4 linked regions of the Homo sapiens genome follow. The protein of the gene in region 4 interacts with the protein of the main gene of each other region in a pairwise test. Each region holds a gene or a part of one and is shown on either strand. Other genes may lie near its edges. The genes, in order: PRB3, FAM114A2, PTN and TBRG4.

Region 1 (5,529 bases), on a different chromosome or scaffold from region 4:
CAATCTCCTGCTGCAGTCCTGCTCCTCTCTTCCACCCACCCTCACTCACAGACAGTGTCCCTTTCCACATTTCCATCACTTCTGTTTTTGTTTTGTCTGGTTAGTGCATAGCTGATATTTATGCTTTCCTGATACACTTTACTCATTGCTGACATTGGAGAAAGTCAGGGAAAGGGCCTGAGATAAGGGACTTTTAGGGGCATTTCTGTTGTCTTCCTCTACTCTCCTGCCAAGGACAAATCTTTCTTGTATCAGGCCTGCAGCAACCTAAGTTGGCGACAACATCAGGCAATGTTGGCCTGGCCTCTCTGCTGCTCCTTGTTTCTGACATTCCTTTGTTACCTGATGGTCTAACTTAAGACACCTAGGCAGGATTGGTCATCTCCAGTTCCTATGGAGGAGACCAGAGATAGAAATCTCAATAATATAATGGGACCTGCTGGCACAAGCAAGTACTCTCTGCCTAAGATAAAACTCATGAAGACTAGCTAGAACCAGTCCACTTTCCATAGAGCCAGAAATAATTTCCAATTAATAATATATTCCCCTTTCAAGTATGTCTATATTTTTGCCAGGGAAAATATCAATCTTCCTGGTTCCCTTGCAAGGGCAAAGTTATCTGTAGCAAAGCCTTCTGTATTAGGAAGTCTTCCTGTACTATTACCCCCAACTCTTCAGAAGGGCCAGACCAGACCCTCATCTGCACAGTCCAGGATCCACTCATCCACAATGGTCAAGAGGTCTGTCTTTAGGATTTACTGTCACATACCCTCTCTACCTCCATCATACCTCCAGCCAAGCTGTCCTCAAATTAATACCAGCCATGCACAAAATGTGAACAATTACACAAGACACACAGAAGGTCTAAGTGGTAAATGGCAGCTGACTCACTGACTAACCTGTATATTCCATGAACTGATGAGCAGGGATTTACTAGGTATAACAGAAGAATCAGCAGCTAAAAGAAGTGCTAACAATGCAGGACTCTGAGAGGGCTTTTTGGAAACACAACATTTATTGTGAAATTACACAGACAAGAATGAAACAAAGGTGGTGAGAATTATAGCTTATTACTTAGAAGATTAAATAAAGGAAATCTTACCAAATTCCTGGGGAAAAAAGCCAGATATATAAAGAAAATTACACAAAATGAGCTTGACTCAGAAAATAAAATATGAACAAAGAAGTACCAGAAAGAACGTCAGGGAGGAATGCATATCAGAATATTGTAGAAAAAATACTCTTTGTGGAAGAACAATCTGAGAAAACAGGTAACACAAATACTGACTAAACCAAGAAAACCAATACAATGCAATTGAGGCTTTAATGAGGGTATCTGATTACCTTATTTGAATGTAGAATTGTAGCCACTTAATTATCAGAGGTAGGAATTCAATACAATTCTTAAAAGAAATGAAGCAGAGGGTGAATTTTGTAGAATATTCTAGAGAAAGGGAAGAGCATGAAGGAAGTTTTGGCAACATGATATTGCATGGTTCCTGCAAGGAACTATATATTCAGTTTTCTCAGGTCTAGAAATTTCCTCGTGGTTTGTGTGTCCATTTTGCATTCATAACCCCTAAAGATACTTTAAAATACACAATTTTGGCCTTCCTGTGTTTCACAACAAGAAGCCTTTCCTGACTTGAGTGAGATCCACAGAAGCATGAACAATAGCTGTAGCCTGAGTAGGCTGTGAGGCAGCCTTCTGTCATCTGTGTGCCCAGGAGTGTGCTGTCCTCAAACATCTCCCAGATAGCAGAAACTATCTCTATCGCATCAAAAGTTAAGCTAAATGTGATACTCTCTGTACACACACATCACGAGAGATGGAAATAGGCTATAAAAACAGCCAGAGATATTGATCATCATCACCGCTGGCTGTAGCTTCACTGCCCACACACACATACACAGAAATAAATAGCAAAGTTGAAAGTGGACAATAGTCTTACCAAAAAGATTGAAACTCTAATGACGTCTGAAGTTCAATTATGACACCGTGCTGATTGCTTGGACACAGTTCCTTTAAAACCTTTGTTCAAGTCATAGTTGTACCTTTTAGAAATAAGGTACAAACAACATCCAACCCAACCTGTTCCTCTGGGCTAGAGTCCCAGACAGAAATAAGGGATACACCTGACCTGCAGTAAGGAAAGCAGAACCCAGTCTCTGGGGTGGTGAGGCCCACCCAGTGTGGAGCTCAAAGGTGCCACTGTTCTGCTCCTCTTTATAAAGGGAGCTGCCATGGTTCTCCCAGCACAGAGTTGGGAGTGACTCCAGAGCCTCCAGCAAGATGCTACTGATTCTGCTGTCGGTGGCCCTGCTGGCCCTGAGCTCAGCTCAGAGCTTAAATGAAGGTAAGACAGAAGGAGGAGAAGATGTGGTGACTCTGCTTGGGGCTTAGGAGGTGATAGTTGTAATTATGGGGAAGAGAGGAGAATGAAAACACAGATGGGGCTGCAGAGGTTTCATGCCTAGGATCAGGAGACCTGTTGTGCCCTCATTCCACACCAAGGGCTTCTAATTTATTTAATGTACAATGAAAATCCAATAAAGAATTTGTACCAGGGGAATGAGAAGGTAAGATTTGCATTTATAGAGAGATAGAACTGTGCTGTGAAGGATGCAGTGGTGAATGCAAGGCAGATTCAGGAAAGTCCAGCTGTGAAGATCCTAAACTGATCTCAGTAAGTACACAGGGATGATTGTGGCCTTGCTCTACCTAGTGGATCAGCATTGATGATGGAGATAAACACACATTAGAGATACTGCAGAGACAGAACTGGATAAAACACTTGCCTGTGTCTAACTACAGATATAGAAATATCAGATTCAATCATTGTGATTTTTCTTTCCCCTACACACAGTATTTCAATGTGCTGGGAGTGGTATAGGTAAGATTGTATTGAAACAATTACTTCTGGTTACCGAAATTGAGAAAGCTTGTGAATATAAGCAATGTATTTATAGGAGATGGAGGGCATAAGAATACCAAAATATCACATTGAAGTACCTGGCATGTGTAAACTAAATTAGCATTAAGTCTTGAAGGATGCTAGGGAAGAAAAAAAGGGGCTCTTCTATATTGAGTTCATGGCTGTTGCTCTGTGTGGTAACAACCCTGCCTCCCCTTACACCTTCCTCCCCTTCCAGCAGCTTCACAGATGGTAGCTGATGAGCTAACCTAGGGGATGCATGGGGTGTGGTGAGAAGTCCCCTTTCCCTGTAGAACACCTGTGAATCTTGCAAAATTCGAGATGTAACCTTTCCCATCATCCTGTGCTTCTCTTCTAGATGTCAGCCAGGAAGAATCTCCCTCCGTAATATCAGGTAAATCCCAATTCACTCTCAATCTGTTTTAACTATCTTCTTCTGCTTATGAATGGATCAGTTCTCCAGTGTCTTCTCACCAACATTTTCCTTTAGAAATTGATTAATATTAGTCCCCCTAATAATGCAGGCAATCTTCATGCAACCTTGATTTTGGGGACCATGAGCAGGGCCACCAAATTGAATGGCAGAGATGCTTGGCTTAGATGAAAACGGGAGTGGGTTGACTTCCCTCCTGCCAGGAGTGCCTGCTGGGAGATGACAGACAAATGGCCAGTGTCCTTATTCTGACTCCTCCTTAGACTGAGAGCCCCTCAACTGCTTCCTTCTTCTCCAGCATTCCACTCCAGAGTTCTAGAGCTTCACTGAAAATGCAAAGAAATTAGTGTCTGGGTCTTATTTTTGTGCATTTCCCCATTTAGCTGCGTTACTGTAAAAATTTGCGGCAACTATTCAGTGAATGCCGTGTGTCCACCTCCTCCAGGAAAGCCAGAAGGACGACGCCCACAAGGAGGAAACCAGCCCCAACGTACCCCACCTCCTCCAGGAAAGCCAGAAGGACGACCCCCACAAGGAGGCAACCAGTCCCAAGGTCCCCCACCTCGTCCAGGAAAGCCAGAAGGACCACCCCCACAAGGAGGAAACCAGTCCCAAGGTCCCCCACCTCGTCCGGGAAAGCCAGAAGGACAACCCCCACAAGGAGGAAACCAGTCCCAAGGTCCCCCACCTCGTCCGGGAAAGCCAGAAGGACCACCCCCACAAGGAGGAAACCAGTCCCAAGGTCCCCCGCCTCGTCCGGGAAAGCCAGAAGGACCACCCCCACAAGGAGGAAACCAGTCCCAAGGTCCCCCGCCTCGTCCGGGAAAGCCAGAAGGACCACCCCCACAAGGAGGAAACCAGTCCCAAGGTCCCCCGCCTCATCCGGGAAAGCCAGAAGGACCACCCCCACAAGGAGGAAACCAGTCCCAAGGTCCCCCACCTCGTCCGGGAAAGCCAGAAGGACCACCCCCACAAGGAGGAAACCAGTCCCAAGGTCCCCCACCTCGTCCGGGAAAGCCAGAAGGACCACCCCCACAAGGAGGCAACAAACCTCAAGGTCCCCCACCTCGTCCAGGAAAGCCAGAAGGACCACCCCCACAAGGAGGAAACCAGTCCCAAGGTCCCCCACCTCGTCCAGGAAAGCCAGAAGGACCACCTTCACAAGGAGGCAACAAACCTCAAGGTCCCCCACCTCATCCAGGAAAGCCACAAGGACCACCCCCACAAGAAGGTAACAAACCTCAACGTCCCCCTCCTCCAGGAAGGCCACAAGGACCACCCCCACCAGGAGGCAATCCCCAGCAGCCTCTGCCACCTCCCGCTGGAAAGCCCCAGGGACCACCTCCACCTCCTCAAGGGGGCAGACCACACAGACCTCCCCAGGGACAGCCTCCCCAGTAATCAAGGTTCAATGACAGGTATGATTCCAGTTTATTCTTCACCAAGTGCTCTAAGTGTTACAGTTCTCCAACTTTATTGTGCCAATGAATCAACTAAAAACCCATTGACATTGTATTGTCCTAGAACCCATTTCTAAAGATTTGTATTCAGATACTCTGGAATAGGGTAAGAAGACCCTGTATTTCTAACAAACTCTTTAAGGAACTCTGATGTTGAGAAACAACATACCATACAATCTGTCTTAAATTGTGTTGGCAATGAGGAAGTAGTACCATGTCCATTCTTGGTGCTCTGCTTTCGGTCCACAAACTCAGAGATATTGCATTTAAATTTTTCACCTGAGCACTGTTTGCTCATTCCTGCCTCACGCCAGCCTCTCGAGTCCAGTATTCCTGCCAAATGGTCCCTGATCTTTCAGCAGCTAAATGGTGTCTCATTTTTTACATACTTAGTTTTCAGTAAGTACATGATTAAGCTAACAAAAGATATCTAATGGAATGGAAAAATATGAAGTTAATTTTAAAGGCGTAGCTCATCCTACTCACCTTCCTTCCTTCAAAAAGCTACCACTGTTGACTTTATGGGATCTTCTCTTTGAAATATTTATGTGTGCATAGACATACAGCATTCTTTTACCCTACCACTAATACCATAACTTATATGCAGGTATATATGGTAGTCATTTAAAAATACACTTCTTGAAAATTTCCACATCAGTTTATGAAGCTAAATACATCTCTTCAGTGGTTTTCTGTTTGC
Region 2 (4,882 bases), on a different chromosome or scaffold from region 4:
GTGAACGAGATTGCGCCACTGCACTCCAGCCTGAGTGACACAGCAAGACTCCATCTCAAAAAAAAAAAAAAAAATTGATGCTGGCAACAATTCCAAGAAAAGAGAATTCTTATACATTGTTAGAATGTAAATTAGTACAACCACTATGAAAACCAGTATGAAGATTTTTCAAAAAATAAAATGGAACTACCAAACTACTGGGTATTTAGCCAAAGGAAAATAAATAAATAAATTATATCAAAGGGATACCTGCACCTGCATGTTTATTGCAGCACTATTCACAACAGCAAAGATATAGAATTAACCTAAGTCAGTTGAAAAATGGATAAAGAAAATGTGGTGTGTATGCGTGTGTGTGTATATATGTATGTGTGTGTATATATATGTGTGTGTATATATGTATATGTGTATACACACACACATATAATGGAATACTATTCAGCTATTTAAAAAAAATGTCATTTGCAGCAACATGGATAGAACTGCAGGTCACGAGGTTAAGTGAAATAAGCCAAGCACAGAAAGACAAACACCTCATGTTCTCACTCATATGTGGGAGCTAAAAAAACATGATCTTACGGAAATAGAGAACAGAACAATTGTGATACCAGAAATGGGGAAAGGTGGGTGCGTGAGTGGGTGGGGATGAAGAGAAGTTGGTTAATGAGTACAAACATACAGTTAGATAGAAAAAAATAAAGTCTAATGTTTGATAGCAGAATAGGGTGACTATACTTAGCAATAATATTTTGTATATTTCAAAATAATGTAAAGCACTTGAAATGATACCAACATATAGACATAATAAATACTCAAGGTGATGAATACCCCAAATACTCTGACTTCATCATTATACATTCTATGCATATAACACTCACATGTACCCCATATATATATATTATGTATCAGTAAAATATTTTTTAAAAAGACGGAAAAGGCATTAAATTTGTGGGTGGAAGACATGAATGGAAATGTGTTCCAAATGACGGCAATCAAGTTTGGTACTATCCACAGTTTCAGGAATCCACTAGGGACTTAAAACATAACCCATACAGATAAGGGGTTACTACTGTATGCCTAAATCAGCCACCTGAGGTATAAGAAGACCCATCTGAGCAGGCACTCATGCTACATAAAAAGGAAGTTCAGTCCTTAGAAAAACATTTCTCTACAAAATTCTCTAGAAAGCAGTATATGTTCCAGTTAAATCAAATAGAAAATAATTAAAATACATTTTAAGGAGACAACATCATACTCAAAATACCCTACATTCCATTTAGAAAAGTTAAAATATGTATTAATTAATTCTCAGTTCTTAATAATAGTTATTAGTTATTAGTTATTAGTTACTGGGTGCTAATTTTATGCCAGGCACCATGCTAAGGGATTTACATGTATCATTTCTAATTTTTACAACAACTCCAAAAGTAAGTGATTAGTCCATCTTTAATAATAGTTACCTAAAGTCTTGTGTGTGCCAGATTTTATTTAAAGTCTTTCAAGCAATGGGAACATATCAGTGAACAAGAAAAGTCCCAGTTTTCATGGATTTCAACTTACTTGCTAAATTAAGGGGGAGACTATATACATATACATATATACACATACACACATATGTATACATATACACACATATATATTCATATACATGTAAGTCCTACTTGGTGATATAAGCTAAGACAATAAAGCAGAGTAAAAGGACAGAGAATGGTGGAAGTTGCTATTTTAGACTTTGTGGTGAAGGAAGGCTTTTCTAAAAAGGTGGCATTTGAGTAGACTTGAATTCAGAGAGGGAGTGAACCCCATTTCAAAGAACATTCCAAGTAGCAGAAATAGCCTCTTTTCCGCAGAACAGGCTCCTTTTAGGGTTGTGAGTCTCTCATCCTTAAGGAAGTTCAAGAAGACAAATTAGCCCCCTATTATGGGGTGCTGTAGTGGGATGGTGATGGTGCAAGTAAAGAGGAAGTCTGCAGAAGACTGACAGCCCCTCCCAGTTCTAATAATGGGCACTCTTATACATTTGTTTCCAATGAAAATTCTCATTATTTTAATCAGGACATTTGCTTAGAAACTACTGGGCTTTTTCTTCCCTACCTATGATTATCTATACTATTTTTGAAAAATTTTTGTACAAATCAGCAATAAAATGAGAAAAAAAGAATGGGTTCAGGACACTCAGTCAGACCTGGGGCTAAATCCCAGGCCATACAGCACAGACAGATTACTTAACTCCTCCAGTTTGCATTTCCTCATGATTAAAACTGGACTAATTACTTACTTTTGGAGGTATAAAAATTAGAAATTATACATGCAAATCCCTTAGCATGGCACTTGGAATGGTATAAAATTAGCACTCAATAATAACTATTATTAAGAACTGAGGTTCTTAGAACTCTTCTCTGTTTTCACTTATACCAAATTCCATTCCTATTAAAACTTATCTGTAAAGAAATAGTCTTCAGAGCATGAGTTGGTTAATAAAAAGGGCATATTTATAATATTGATTTATCATGGTTCAATGAAAAGAAAAAAACAACCAAAATGAACAAACCATCTAATATGTGGATGGGTGTGACGTGAATGGTTTCTTGAGAGAGACGTTTATAAAACTTTGGAAACAGGCCAAGAAAACTCCTGCAATTTGCATCATTTAGAGGAATTCTCATTACACTTACTGGGAAAGAGTTTGGCTCCTTTCTATGGCTGTCACTTCCTGCTTCCTGCCATGCAGAACCAATGCAGCTGTTTTGTGGAATAGTTCAATTGAGCAGGCAGTCAGTTCAGCCAGGCTCCGGATTGCAAACGCATGGATATCCTGGATGGAAAAACAAAACAAAGCATAGCAAAACAAAACATTTGGTGGAAAGATACCACCTTACTTCTCTCATACTACAGGATTTGTAGCAGAGACTAATAGTTGCCTTCCAATAAAGAGTGTCTTCTTCTTCCACAGTAGTGATATAATTTTACAGCTGGGCTCCCCTGAAGTCAGGTGTGACGAAGTAACTAAGTTTTGGCCAAATGATTTAGATAACAAGTGTCAGGCAGCAGTTTCTGGGAACCTTCCTCATGACAAAACACACGCGCATCCTTTCTCTCTTTTTTTCTTCACTCCTCCTTTAATCTTATAGTCTGGATCTAAGATGCTACAATCCTAGATCACAAGGTTGAAATTACGGACAGCAGTGTAAAAATAGGAGCCTGGGTCCCTGATTGTGACACATTTCAAATCTACTAAAACAAACAAAAAAGGCTTAGTTGCTTTGGCTACCTCTATTGAATTTTTGTTGACTTGCTCAGTATTTTCTGCTTCCGACTGTTTTTCTCCTTCTTCATTCTCTGCTAATGGCTTGGTCAGAGACTTCCTGATCCATTCGTGGGCGGTATTTCTTGCCTAAATAAGAAAAATATTGGCCATCAACAATTCAATTCAGTTTACCAAAATTACTGTGCACCTACCAGGAACACAATAGCATCCTAGAAGTAAGGGCTCCTGTTCTTACCTGAACGTACCATCTAGCTTTTCAGTCCTTATCCTACTAGTCTCAGCAATACTTATCACTGTGGTCCATCATTCCTTTTCAAAATTCTCTAATTGGTAGTATTTTTTTTTTTTTTTTGAGATGGAATTTCGCTCTTGTTGCCCAGGCTGGAGTGCAATGGCACAATCTTGGCTCACTGCAACCTCTGCCTCCTGGGTCCAAGCGATTCTCCTGCCTTAGCCTCCCGAGTAGCTGGGATTACAGGCGCCCACCACCACGCCCAGCTAATTTTTGTATTTTTAGTAGAGACGGGGTTTCGCCAGGTTGACCAAGCTGGTCTCGAACTCCTGACCTCAGGTGATCCCCCTGCCTCAGCCTCCCAAAGTGCTGGGATTACAGGCATGAGCCACTGCGCCCGGCCTCTAATCAGCTTTTTAAAAAACCAAGGTATAATTTACATAAAGTGCACAAATCTTCAGAGTATGGCTTAAGAAATGTTTTTATGTGTATATGCCTACGAAACCGTGATCAAGATATAGAATATTTCCTCATCCCTAGAAGGTCCCTTCATGTCCCTTCCTAGCCAATACTATTCAAACCATGTCCCCCTCCTCCTGCCCAAAGACAAACCCTCTTCTGCTCACTATAAATAATTTTTCCTAATCTTAAAATGCATAAAAATAGAAATATAAGTTCATTCTAATTTGTGTCTGGCTTAAGCACAACATAATGTCTGTTAGATTTATCCATGTTGCTGCATGTATTAGTTCATTCATATTAACTGCTGTGTAGTATTTCATTTTATATACAGTCATGCACCACATAATGATGTTTGGGTCAACAGCAGACCACATATATAATGGTGGTCCTGTAAGACTGTAATACCATATTTTTACTGTACCTTTTCTATACCATTGTGTTGCAACTGCCTACAGTATTCAGTACTGTAACATGCTGTACAGTTTTGTACAGGAGCAATAGGTTAAACGATATAGCCTAGGTGTGTAACAGGCTACATCAGCTAGGTTTGTGTAAGTACACTCTCTGATATTCGCCCAATGACAAAACTGCCTAATGATGCAGTTCTCATAACATATCCTCATCATTAAGCAATGCATGATTGTATATATCACAATTTATCCATTCTCCTGATAATGAATCTAGTTTTCTTTGGTTTTTGTAACCCCAACTTTCTTCTGTTCTCCTCTGACCTTTATGACCATTTCTCCTCAGTATCTTTTATATATTGATCCTAACTGGCCAGTCTCTTAAACGCCAATATTATTTGGAGGTCTAGCCTTCACTCTTTACTCGTCTCATCCTATTCCCTCTCCATCCATCCTATGCCAGTGGTTTCAACTATCCTCAACCTGCTGTTGACTCTTAGATCCTTATTTCTA
Region 3 (4,882 bases), about 92 Mb from region 4:
TGGTTAGTTATAACAAAGGTATATTATACACAAAGGGAAGGATGAATTTTAATGACCTGTAAATTGCATAACTGGTAGTTTGAAACATAGAATCACTCATAGTAATCATATTTTCAATTAATTATATCAATTAATTATATACCATAATTTATTTACGTATGAATATTACAGAATGTCTATCCACTTGAAATATTTTTAGTGTCATTTTTTCAAGCTGAAAGCCTGAAACAAACTTAACCTTCATTACATGTTATTAGATGAGATACTGTATAAAGGTGAAATATACACCAGTTCAGGTAAAAGGAAGACTTCACTTATTTCCTAAATATCGTTTAGGGTTCTATCTTAATCATGTTCCCTGCTGTGTCCCATTTATTCCAAACTTTTCAACATTTTATGTGTTCACCCAGCCCCACCATCTTCCACCTAATCATGTCCCCACTTTTTCTCCCTTATTATAAAGTTGAATTTTCTCTTTCCCATAGGAAAGAACAGGACAGTGCACGTGTGTGTGTGTGTGTGTGTGTGTGTGTGTGTGTTACATGTGTATGCATGTGTGTGTGGTCTCTTGTCAATGGATTCCATACTAGAGCAGTAGTTCTCAATTTTGGCTGCATCATGAAACCTTCTGAGATGCATTCACAATTTTTAAACTACTGATGCTGATTGGGTTAGTCTGTGCTATACTTGGGCACTGGGAGTTTTGCAAGTTCCCACAGAATATTCTAATGTGAAGCCCAGGTTGAGCATCACTGTGCTAGAATGTGGAAGCTTCTTTAATTTCTTTTCCTTTCAATTCTGTATTTATGCTGAATATTTTGGTTCTACAGCTGGACTAAAAATAAATTATTTTGACTACAGTAACTCTGAGTTTTGCCATTTTTGGAAATGTTTCACTTGGTAGATAGGGCACTGATTTTGCTTAGATTTATGTGGTTGTCTCTGGACAAATGACATTTGGGAAGTCTGCATAAGTACTCACTGCAGTCACTCCAGCCCTGCTTCATGCCTTCCAAAAACCATATGACAACAGGCAGAGATTTCCATGATCTGGAAAGGGCAGCCTGAACCCTAGACTCACCACCTGCAGGTCCAGCCTGTACCTGGCCATCCTGAAGTTGGAGATAACTATTTCTATGGACAACTCCAGCAGTGGCCAAAAAGCCAGGCCTGTGAAAAATAAAGTCCTTTCTGGCCACCAGCAGGAAACCAGCCAATCTCCATCACCTTCTGCAGATTTTTTTTTTCTACTTTTATTTATTATGAGCATTTCTTACATGGTCATTTTTCTGAATCTCTCCTTACAATTTCTCTGGCAGTATGAATTTTCAGGACCACCTTAGAGTTAAAATATATGAGTAGAGGCCAAGAAGGTATTTGAATTTAGAGTTCATTGAGTCCCATTGTATTAGTTGGCTATAGCTCCTATAACAAAGTACCACAGAGTTGGTGGCTTAAACAACAGAAATTTATTTATTTATTGTCTTGCAGTTCTGGAAGCTACAAGCCTAAGATCAAGGCATCTGTAGGGCTGATTTCTTCTGAAGGTTCTCCCTATGGCTTGTAGATGGCATTCTTCTCCCTCTGTCTTCACACAGTCTTCTCTCTATGTATTTCTGTGTCCTAATCTCCCTTCTTATAAACACACCAGCTGCACTGGATTAGGGCCTACCCTTGTGACTGCATTTTATCTCAATTACCTCTTTAAAGACCCTGTCTCCAATACAGTGACATTGTGAGGGGGTTAAAACTTCAGCATATGAATTTGGGAAAACACAATTCAGACAATAACATCCATGATGAAAGAGTTTATTTCCCTCAGTTGGGATCCTTGTATGTATGAATTCATGGCCATAATGATTGTTTTTACCTTCTCCAGCAAGAGAGCAGAGCCTGACTTTCTGGGAGATACAGATCTCTGTCATTTAAAAATTCTGTGATGAATGTAGTTGGTAACCAAATTGAACTCAAAAAATATAAAGGCTCTGAAAACAAATGCAGAACCCATTAAGTTATGCAGTGAATAAAGGGAAAATGTAAAATAATTTTCCTGATTTTGTGAAAACTATATTTCAGATAATCTGGGAGAAGTTTGATTTAAAATTGTCTCCGTCATAAACATTCTGAGTTTGTTTTTCTTGTCAGGATACAGTTCCAATTAAGAGTGTGGAATATATGGTCATCATACAACTGTCTTTGCTGGTTTCTTTTGCTATGTTATTTATTTGGGTTAGGAGACTGTACCAATCCCCTCATCTATGCAGAGGACTTCAATTTGCACTCACAGGCTGCCTGCTTCAAAGTATTTTTAAAGTATTTTTGTGACTCTCAGTGTAGGGGAGTTTTTCAGTCACTTTCTTAAGGTAATTCACCTAATATTTCCTTCTGGAAAATGTGGGTTTTCCAGATCTTACCTGAGTCCATCAATCCATTAAAATTGTGGTATAATGGCAAGGACTTACCTTGAGGTTTGGGCTTGGTCAGTTTGCCACAGGGCTTGGAGATGGTGACAGTCTTCTGGCATTCGGCATTGTGCAGGGCTCGCTTCAGACTTCCAGTTCTGGTCTTCAGGGCTGTGTTCAGGTCACATTCTCCCCAGGCCTGGAACTGGTATTTGCACTCCGCTAAAGGCAGGGTAGAACCAAACAGAAATCCTTGAAAGATCCTATCGTACTTCCAGGATAATAAAGGCACACTTTTGTTTGTAACTTTTTTATTGAAATAATTATAGATCCATATGCAGCTATAAGAAATAATACAGAGTGTATGCGTGTGTATTGATTTCTGTTCAATTCTATCACATGTGTAGATGCATACGATCACCATCAATATACACCATTAATACACACTAATATACACTATTAATATACAGTCCCAATACAACAGTGGGTCATTCTTTATAGTCATGGCCTAGCCACCTTCCTCCTTCCCCACCTCCTTAATCCCCGGCAACTCCTTATCTGTTCTCTAGCTCTATCATTTTTCTAGCTTAAAAATGTTGCATAAATGGAATTCTACAATATGTAAACTTCTGAGATTGGCTTTTTTATTTAGCATAATTTCCTGAAGATCCATCCAAGTCATGTGCATCAATAGTCTGTTTCTTCCTATTGCTGAGTAGTATTCCATGGTCCCAATGTACCCCAGTTTGTTTAACCATTCATCAGCTGAAGGACATCCGAGTTGTTACCAGCCTTGGGTTACTACAAATAGAACTGCTATATAAATTCATGTATAGGTTTTTGTGGAAACATCAGTTTTCATTTCTCTGAGATAAATTACCAAGAAACTGCTGTGTTACATGGTAAATGCATGTTTCATTTCGTAAAAAACTGCAATACTCTTTTTCCACTGTGGCTGTACCACCTTACAATTTCCACTGGCAACATATGAGGGATCTGGTTTCTTGGCACCCTCACTAGCATTTCGTCTTGTCACTATTTTTTATTCTAGCCACTTTGATAGATGTAGAGTGATATCTCATTATGGTTTCAATTTCTAGTTCCCTAATAAGGAAAAGATGCTGAATATATTTTCAGGAGTTCATTTGTTGCCTATATATCCTCTTTGGTAAAATGTCTGTTAATGTTTTTTCCCCACTTTCTTATTGAACTGTTAGGTTTTGTTTGTTTTGTTTTTTGTTGTTGTTGTTTTGTTGTTTACTGTTGAGTTTGAGAGTTATTTAATATTCTCAATGTAAGTCTTTAAGATATACCTTTTAAACTTTTTGTAAGTGGGTTTTTAAGGTGCCCATATACAATTTAAGACCAAATGTACCTGTTCTCCATCACACTTTTATAGAACTTGTCTATATCCATTCAAATAAAAAATACCCCAAAGATTACAGAGGGAGAAAAAGACATACATGTATACATCCATTATCCTTCCTCACTTGTCTATGGGCCACAATGCATTTCCATAGAACACAGATAGGACATTTCAGGCATCATGTCCCACTATGGCTAAGAAAGACAAAAAGTCTGGATTGTGGAAGAGGTTATTTGAGGGTTCAATACTGGATATAAAGTTGAAAGTGTTGAGAGATCCTGTCTCAGATAGATAGATCAGGCCAGCATAAGACTGACTCCAGTCAGTGGGAGAAAGATTTATGAAACGTGGCTGTGAGCAGCCCTGCTGAACTCAGTAAGTGAATCTGTGAAACTGTGTGGAGGTTGGGGAGGGATCAAATGGGAGAGAAGGTCTGAAAGTGACAGGGAGAAACATGGAGAAGCAGGAGAATAAATAAGAAAAGGGGAAAGGAAAAATCAAAGGAACTTAGAAATAGAAGAAAGGAGAGAGAAGACAGATCAATTAACATTATTCAGAGGAATCAAGGATATATTTTATGTCCCTTTGGAAAGGCAGTGGTTCCCAACCAGGGATGATTTTGACCAACAGGGTACATTTGGCCATAGATATTTGGAGACATTTTTAGTTTTCACATCTGGAGCGGGTGAGGAATGCTACCGGAAACTAGCGAGTAGAAGCCAGCGATGCTCCTAAATACCCTAAAATGCACAAGACAGCCTCCACAACAAATAATTGCCTGGCCTGAAATGGGACCAGTCTGGTCACTTTGTGTCTGGTAAGATAAAGTTATTTAAAATAAAAAGTACTTATCCTTAAAAAGACATTTGGTGGAAAAATTTGAGAATTATCTCAGAGTAGGAGATTAACTCAGTAGCATGAGGCTTACCGCCAAATTGCTTCTTCCAGTTGCAGGGGATCTTACATCTCTGGGTCTTCATGGTTTGCTTGCACTCAGCTCCAGTCCGAGTGCCCTCCCGTGTGCCCAGCCCACAGTCTCCACTGGTGGGCACACACACACTCCACTGCCATTCTCCACAGTCAGACTTCTTCACTTTTTTTTCTGAATGAAAGG
Region 4 (4,882 bases):
GGCAGAGTCCTGTGCCACCCTCTCACAGGAGCAGCACTCGCAGGAGCTGCTGGCTGAGCTGCTCACACACCTGGAAAGGCGTTGGACAGAAATTGAAGATTCCCACACATTAGTGACCGTCATGATGAAGGTGGGACACCTCTCGGAGCCACTAATGAACCGCCTGGAAGACAAGGTACTGGGCCTGAAAGCAGGTGGCACCCAGCCTGCCTCCCCTGGGCTTTGGGCTTGTTCTTTGGGTGACAGTTGTCTGCAGAGGGGTGCGTTGTGTGCACTGGGATCAGAGCCCTGGGAGCTTCTGTCTGGAGCCTCAGGCATCACATGGGGCAGGACCAGAGGGCTCGGAGCTGCAACAGGTGGTTGCCCTGTGGCTGCATTCATCAAGCACCACTTGCTCCTCCCAACACAGGCGCTTCCCTGATTGCACCTTTATCTTTCCCCCAAACCCCATCACAGCACGATCTTGAGAGGGGGGCATGGCAGGCAGCTCCTGAAGTAACACAGCTACTGCCCAGGCCTGGCTTCTGGCTAGAACTCTCCTGGAGATGTGCTAACCCCTATCGGCTGTAGCCCTGCAGTCAAGTCAAATTCAGTGCCCGTTTCTGTCATAGCGGGGGCTGGCCCAGATGGCTGCCACAGCAAGCTCCACAGCTCATGGGCCCTGGGTCACCTACCCTGGGACCTGGGGATAAGTTTGGCTGTGGACAGTGCTCCAGGTCCAGGGGTTCCCTGGGGTGGATGAGGAGGCAGGCCCTGCACAGTGGTCCTGTGTTTAGTCAGCTCAGGCCCAGTCTGACAGGGGCTGTCACAGGGGCTGCACTGGATGGGACCATGGGACCCCTGCCCCCAGCTCATCTCTGCCACCCCAGGCCATTGAGCTGACCTCTGCGCGGCTGTGGTTGACAGTGCCTGGAGTTGGTGGAGCACTTTGGCCCCAATGAGCTGCGGAAGGTGCTGGTGATGCTGGCAGCTCAGAGCCGGCGGTCCGTGCCCTTGCTGCGGGCCATCTCCTACCACCTGGTGCAGAAGCCCTTCTCTCTGACGAAAGATGTGCTCTTGGACGTGGCCTATGCCTATGGTGAGCCCTTTGGACAGAACGGTGGAGAGAGGGGAGCGCTGGCCCTGCAGATGCCTGCAGCCGTGTCAAATTCAGTACCTGTCCTATGCATGGTAGGCACTGGCCCAGAAGGCTGCCACAGAAACACTGTGACTCATGGGCCCTGTTCCTGTGTCCCAGGCTCAGGGATAAATTTGGTTACAGACATCAAATATCTAGACCTCGAGGCTGAGGTGGGGTGGAGCTGCTGGGTGATTGCTGACTCTCTCCAGCTAAACCCTGTGATCTGCTCTGTCCTGAAGGCAAACTCAGCTTTCACCAGACCCAGGTGTCCCAGCGCCTGGCCACCGACCTGCTATCCCTCATGCCCAGCCTGACTTCTGGTGAGGTGGCCCACTGTGCCAAGTCCTTCGCCTTACTCAAGTGGCTCAGCCTGCCCCTGTTTGAGGCCTTTGCCCAGGTGAGCCAGGGCCTGGCCCCAACTCAGAGAAGCTGGCTTCCTGGCCATCTGCTGGGAACCATTGCCTTAGTCGGGAAAGTAAAGCCAGTCTGAAAATGCTCACTTGTGGGGGCAAATACATATTTCTTGCATTTTGGCTTATTTTGAAAGGGCTGCTATTCAGTTCTCAAAAAAGTGTTTGAGAACTGTTTCCTCTGTTCTTTCACTGACCATTATAAGTGCTTCCATCCATTTTGGGGTAGCTGTAGCAGGTAGCAGCATGGCTGATGAGACTGAGAATCCACTGAGAACTGTCTACTGAATCACTGATCCCCCTCGCAAAGTGGAACTGTACAGAAAGATGACACCTGCAGTTACGTTTATGTGTGACCAGTCTAAACTAAGTTTACTGGTTGGAGAATATTTCTAAATCCCTTATCAGAAAGAAGCAGCTTCTAGGTGTCCCCAGCCTCTGTGGGTAGTTGCTGCCAGGCGAAGGAGTGTCTGGGCCTGTGTAAGTCCTTCTCTGTTCCCGACACAGCTCATGGGCCCTGGATGGAGGGTCCTGCCATTGCCCCTGGCCATGCAGGCTCTCCTCAGACTCAGAGCCAGGCAGGAGGACAGCGTGCTGGGCAGAGAGCTTATTCTGTCCCTCTGCTATTTCTGACCCACCCAGCACGTCCTGAACAGAGCGCAGGACATCACCCTGCCCCACCTGTGCAGCGTACTTCTGGCTTTTGCGCGTCTGAACTTCCATCCAGACCAAGAGGATCAGTTCTTCAGCCTGGTAGGGCCTCTGGGCTCCCACTGCTCGACCTTTATCCTCCCCTTCAGCTAATGGCTCATGAACCGTCCTCCCAAGATCAGCTCGGGCTAGGTGGAGGCGGGAGGGGCCACTATGTGTGGCATGGGAGGGCAGGGGGAACTGATTGGAGCCAGGCATCCTAGGGATTACTGAGAACACATGAAATCCTGCTGTCTGGTTGACTGCCCTGCCAGGCAGCGCTGGGGGGTCCTGCCTCTGGTGCTCCTTTTAATGCCCTGTTGATGCTCAGAAGCTCCAGTGGGCCTTCGTGCTATGTGCACCAGCTCAGGGCAGGAGGGGGAGCCTTCTTTATGAAGACCTTAGGACAGCCACAGAGGCCAGCAGGCCAGGTGTGATCCCAGGCTCCCTGGGATTCCATCAGGGGTTTGTCTGGCACAGTCCTGAGAACAATTAGCCAGGGGCTGGGGAGTGCTGCTTCACCTCTTGGATGCTCTCATCTCTCAGAGGACCAGAGATTCCTCCTTCCTTGTCCCAGGTGCTCACTTGGAGACATTATGGGAGAAGGGATCTTGTTCCCTGCCAGTAGGTTGGTTGTAGTAAACCTAATCAAATGCCAGCATTCAGCAGCACTCTTCTGCTGTTCAGAGTGGTCTTGGGGCATGAGGAAGATTCCTGGTACCTTCAAGCCCAGGATTGCTCCAGGCCTCACCAAGGGCCAGGGTTCTGCCTCTTGTTACCTAGTAGCCTCCTCTGGCCTCATCCCAACCAGGCCAAGACCACATCATGGATTGTGTCTCACCCATGGCTATTTGCAGCCCCTAAGGAGAGCCTGCTTTCTCCACCACACTCTATCCTTGCCCAGGTACATGAGAAGCTGGGGTCAGAGCTGCCAGGCCTGGAGCCAGCCCTGCAGGTGGACCTGGTGTGGGCCCTGTGTGTGCTGCAGCAGGCACGGGAAGCAGAGCTGCAAGCCGTCCTCCACCCTGAATTTCACATCCAATTTCTAGGTGAGCCCCCTGCCCCTAGTACTACTGGAACTGGGAAACTGCCTGGTCTTGTCTGCCTAGTGCCAGGTGAGAATTTGGGGCAGATGGAGGCCAGGGCTCTCCCTCCCCCTCGCTCTCCATCCTCTCCCTGTAGGTGGCCAGCAGACCGTAACTCTGCTGCCTCCTGACCCAGAAAACTGGGCTGGGACTGGGTGTAGGGGTGCACTGCCCTCTCATCAGGGTCTCCCCATCTCTGGCCGTAGGCCCACCTCCCTCTTCTTTCTCCTTGTCTCCTAGGGGGCAAGTCTCAGAAGGATCAGAACACCTTCCAGAAGCTGCTCCACATCAACGCCACTGCCCTGCTGGAGTACCCCGAGTACTCGGGTCCCCTTCTGCCTGCCTCGGCTGTGGCCCCTGGGCCCTCAGCCCTTGACAGGAAGGTGACCCCCCTGCAAAAGGAGCTGCAGGAGACGCTGAAGGGGCTGCTGGGGAGCGCCGACAAGGGCAGCCTCGAGGTGGCCACGCAGTATGGCTGGGTGCTGGGTGAGGGCTCCCCCTGGTTGGCACAGGGCCTGGCATTGCCTGAGTCTAACGGGACTCTTCTAACCCACCCCGTCTGCAGCAAGTACTGACCTAGGGAGCTGCAGGGTGTCAGCCTGGGCTCCCCACAGTCCCATCTTTGTTCATCTTTCCTGTGGGGGGGTTTCTGAGGGATGTCCCCCAACATGTTCTCATCCCACACCCCTTCCCCAGATGCTGAGGTGCTGCTGGACAGTGACGGCGAGTTTCTGCCCGTAAGGGACTTTGTGGCACCTCACCTTGCCCAGCCAACTGGGAGCCAGTCACCACCTCCAGGGTCTAAGAGGTAGGTGGCCAGGGACCTGTTGGCCATGGGGGCACCATGGCTGTTGGACTGCATATTCTTTGCTTTCCATCTTTCCCCTCCGAGGGGCTGGGAGAGTGGAAGCATGTCAGCCACCTCTTCTTCCTTCCAGGCTAGCGTTCTTGCGGTGGGAGTTCCCCAACTTCAACAGCCGAAGCAAGGACTTGCTGGGTCGCTTTGTTCTGGCCCGGCGACACATAGTGGCTGCAGGCTTCCTGATAGTGGACGTGAGTACCTCTTGGGCAGGTGGTCACTGCACAGGGAGAATCCCCAACCCACGCTAGAGAGGGGATCAGGTGGAACTGAGCCAGCAGGTATAGACACATGCCCTGCCCGTGGCCCCGGGCCTCTCCCAGGAGCCCAGGGAGGGAGTTTACTGTGGATCCTAGCTGCTCCAGCCTCCCCTCTAACCTTCCCAGCATCTCACCCCGTGGGTGAACCCAAAAAGGCAACCAAGCCTGCTTATTCAGCTTAAGAGGTGGGCAGGGTAGGGCCCATTCACAGATGAGCAGCTTGAAGCCCAAGAGGCTGCACAGCTGTTGGGGCTCTGAGTGCAGCTGCTCTGCCCCCTTGGTCAGCGCCTGTTGTCAGGAAAAGTAGGACCAGTGGAACTGGCAGGAGCAGAAAGATGCAGGTCTTGGGCCTGACTCTGGTTTCACACCTGGGAGACCTTGGTTAAGATCAAAGGTGGTCACCTTCCCTGGGAAGGGCCAGTGAATGAACATGTGGCTTCATGAGCCACACAAGGGTT

Evidence for each region.
Region 1: the proteins of TBRG4 (region 4) and PRB3 interact in binary tests that used the Homo sapiens proteins (3 or more experiments, as listed by UniProt).
Region 2: the proteins of TBRG4 (region 4) and FAM114A2 interact in binary tests that used the Homo sapiens proteins (3 or more experiments, as listed by UniProt).
Region 3: the proteins of TBRG4 (region 4) and PTN interact in a two-hybrid assay, tested with the Homo sapiens proteins (one large-scale study listed by BioGRID and IntAct).

The regions. Positions count from the first base shown.
Region 1 is NC_000012.12:11,266,434-11,271,962, reverse strand, and holds the start of PRB3 (basic salivary proline-rich protein 3 isoform 2 precursor), read left to right. Parts: upstream 1-2,255; 5' UTR 2,256-2,293; coding exon 2,294-2,357; intron 2,358-3,294; coding exon 3,295-3,330; intron 3,331-3,814; coding exon 3,815-4,770; 3' UTR 4,771-4,787; intron 4,788-5,529. UniProt on the Homo sapiens protein: Acts as a receptor for the Gram-negative bacterium F.nucleatum.
Region 2 is NC_000005.10:153,999,576-154,004,457, forward strand, and holds part of FAM114A2 (protein FAM114A2), read right to left. Parts: intron 3,395-4,882; coding exon 3,272-3,394; intron 2,816-3,271; coding exon 2,676-2,815; intron 1-2,675.
Region 3 is NC_000007.14:137,248,768-137,253,649, forward strand, and holds part of PTN (pleiotrophin isoform 1 precursor), read right to left. Parts: intron 4,871-4,882; coding exon 4,697-4,870; intron 2,625-4,696; coding exon 2,463-2,624; intron 1-2,462.
Region 4 is NC_000007.14:45,100,734-45,105,615, reverse strand, and holds part of TBRG4 (FAST kinase domain-containing protein 4), read left to right. Parts: coding exon 1-175; intron 176-573; exon of another isoform or gene 574-710; intron 711-906; coding exon 907-1,078; intron 1,079-1,133; exon of another isoform or gene 1,134-1,267; intron 1,268-1,359; coding exon 1,360-1,517; intron 1,518-2,172; coding exon 2,173-2,283; intron 2,284-3,124; coding exon 3,125-3,269; intron 3,270-3,545; coding exon 3,546-3,791; intron 3,792-4,001; coding exon 4,002-4,113; intron 4,114-4,243; coding exon 4,244-4,358; intron 4,359-4,882. UniProt on the Homo sapiens protein: Plays a role in processing of mitochondrial RNA precursors and in stabilization of a subset of mature mitochondrial RNA species, such as MT-CO1, MT-CO2, MT-CYB, MT-CO3, MT-ND3, MT-ND5 and MT-ATP8/6. May play a role in cell cycle progression.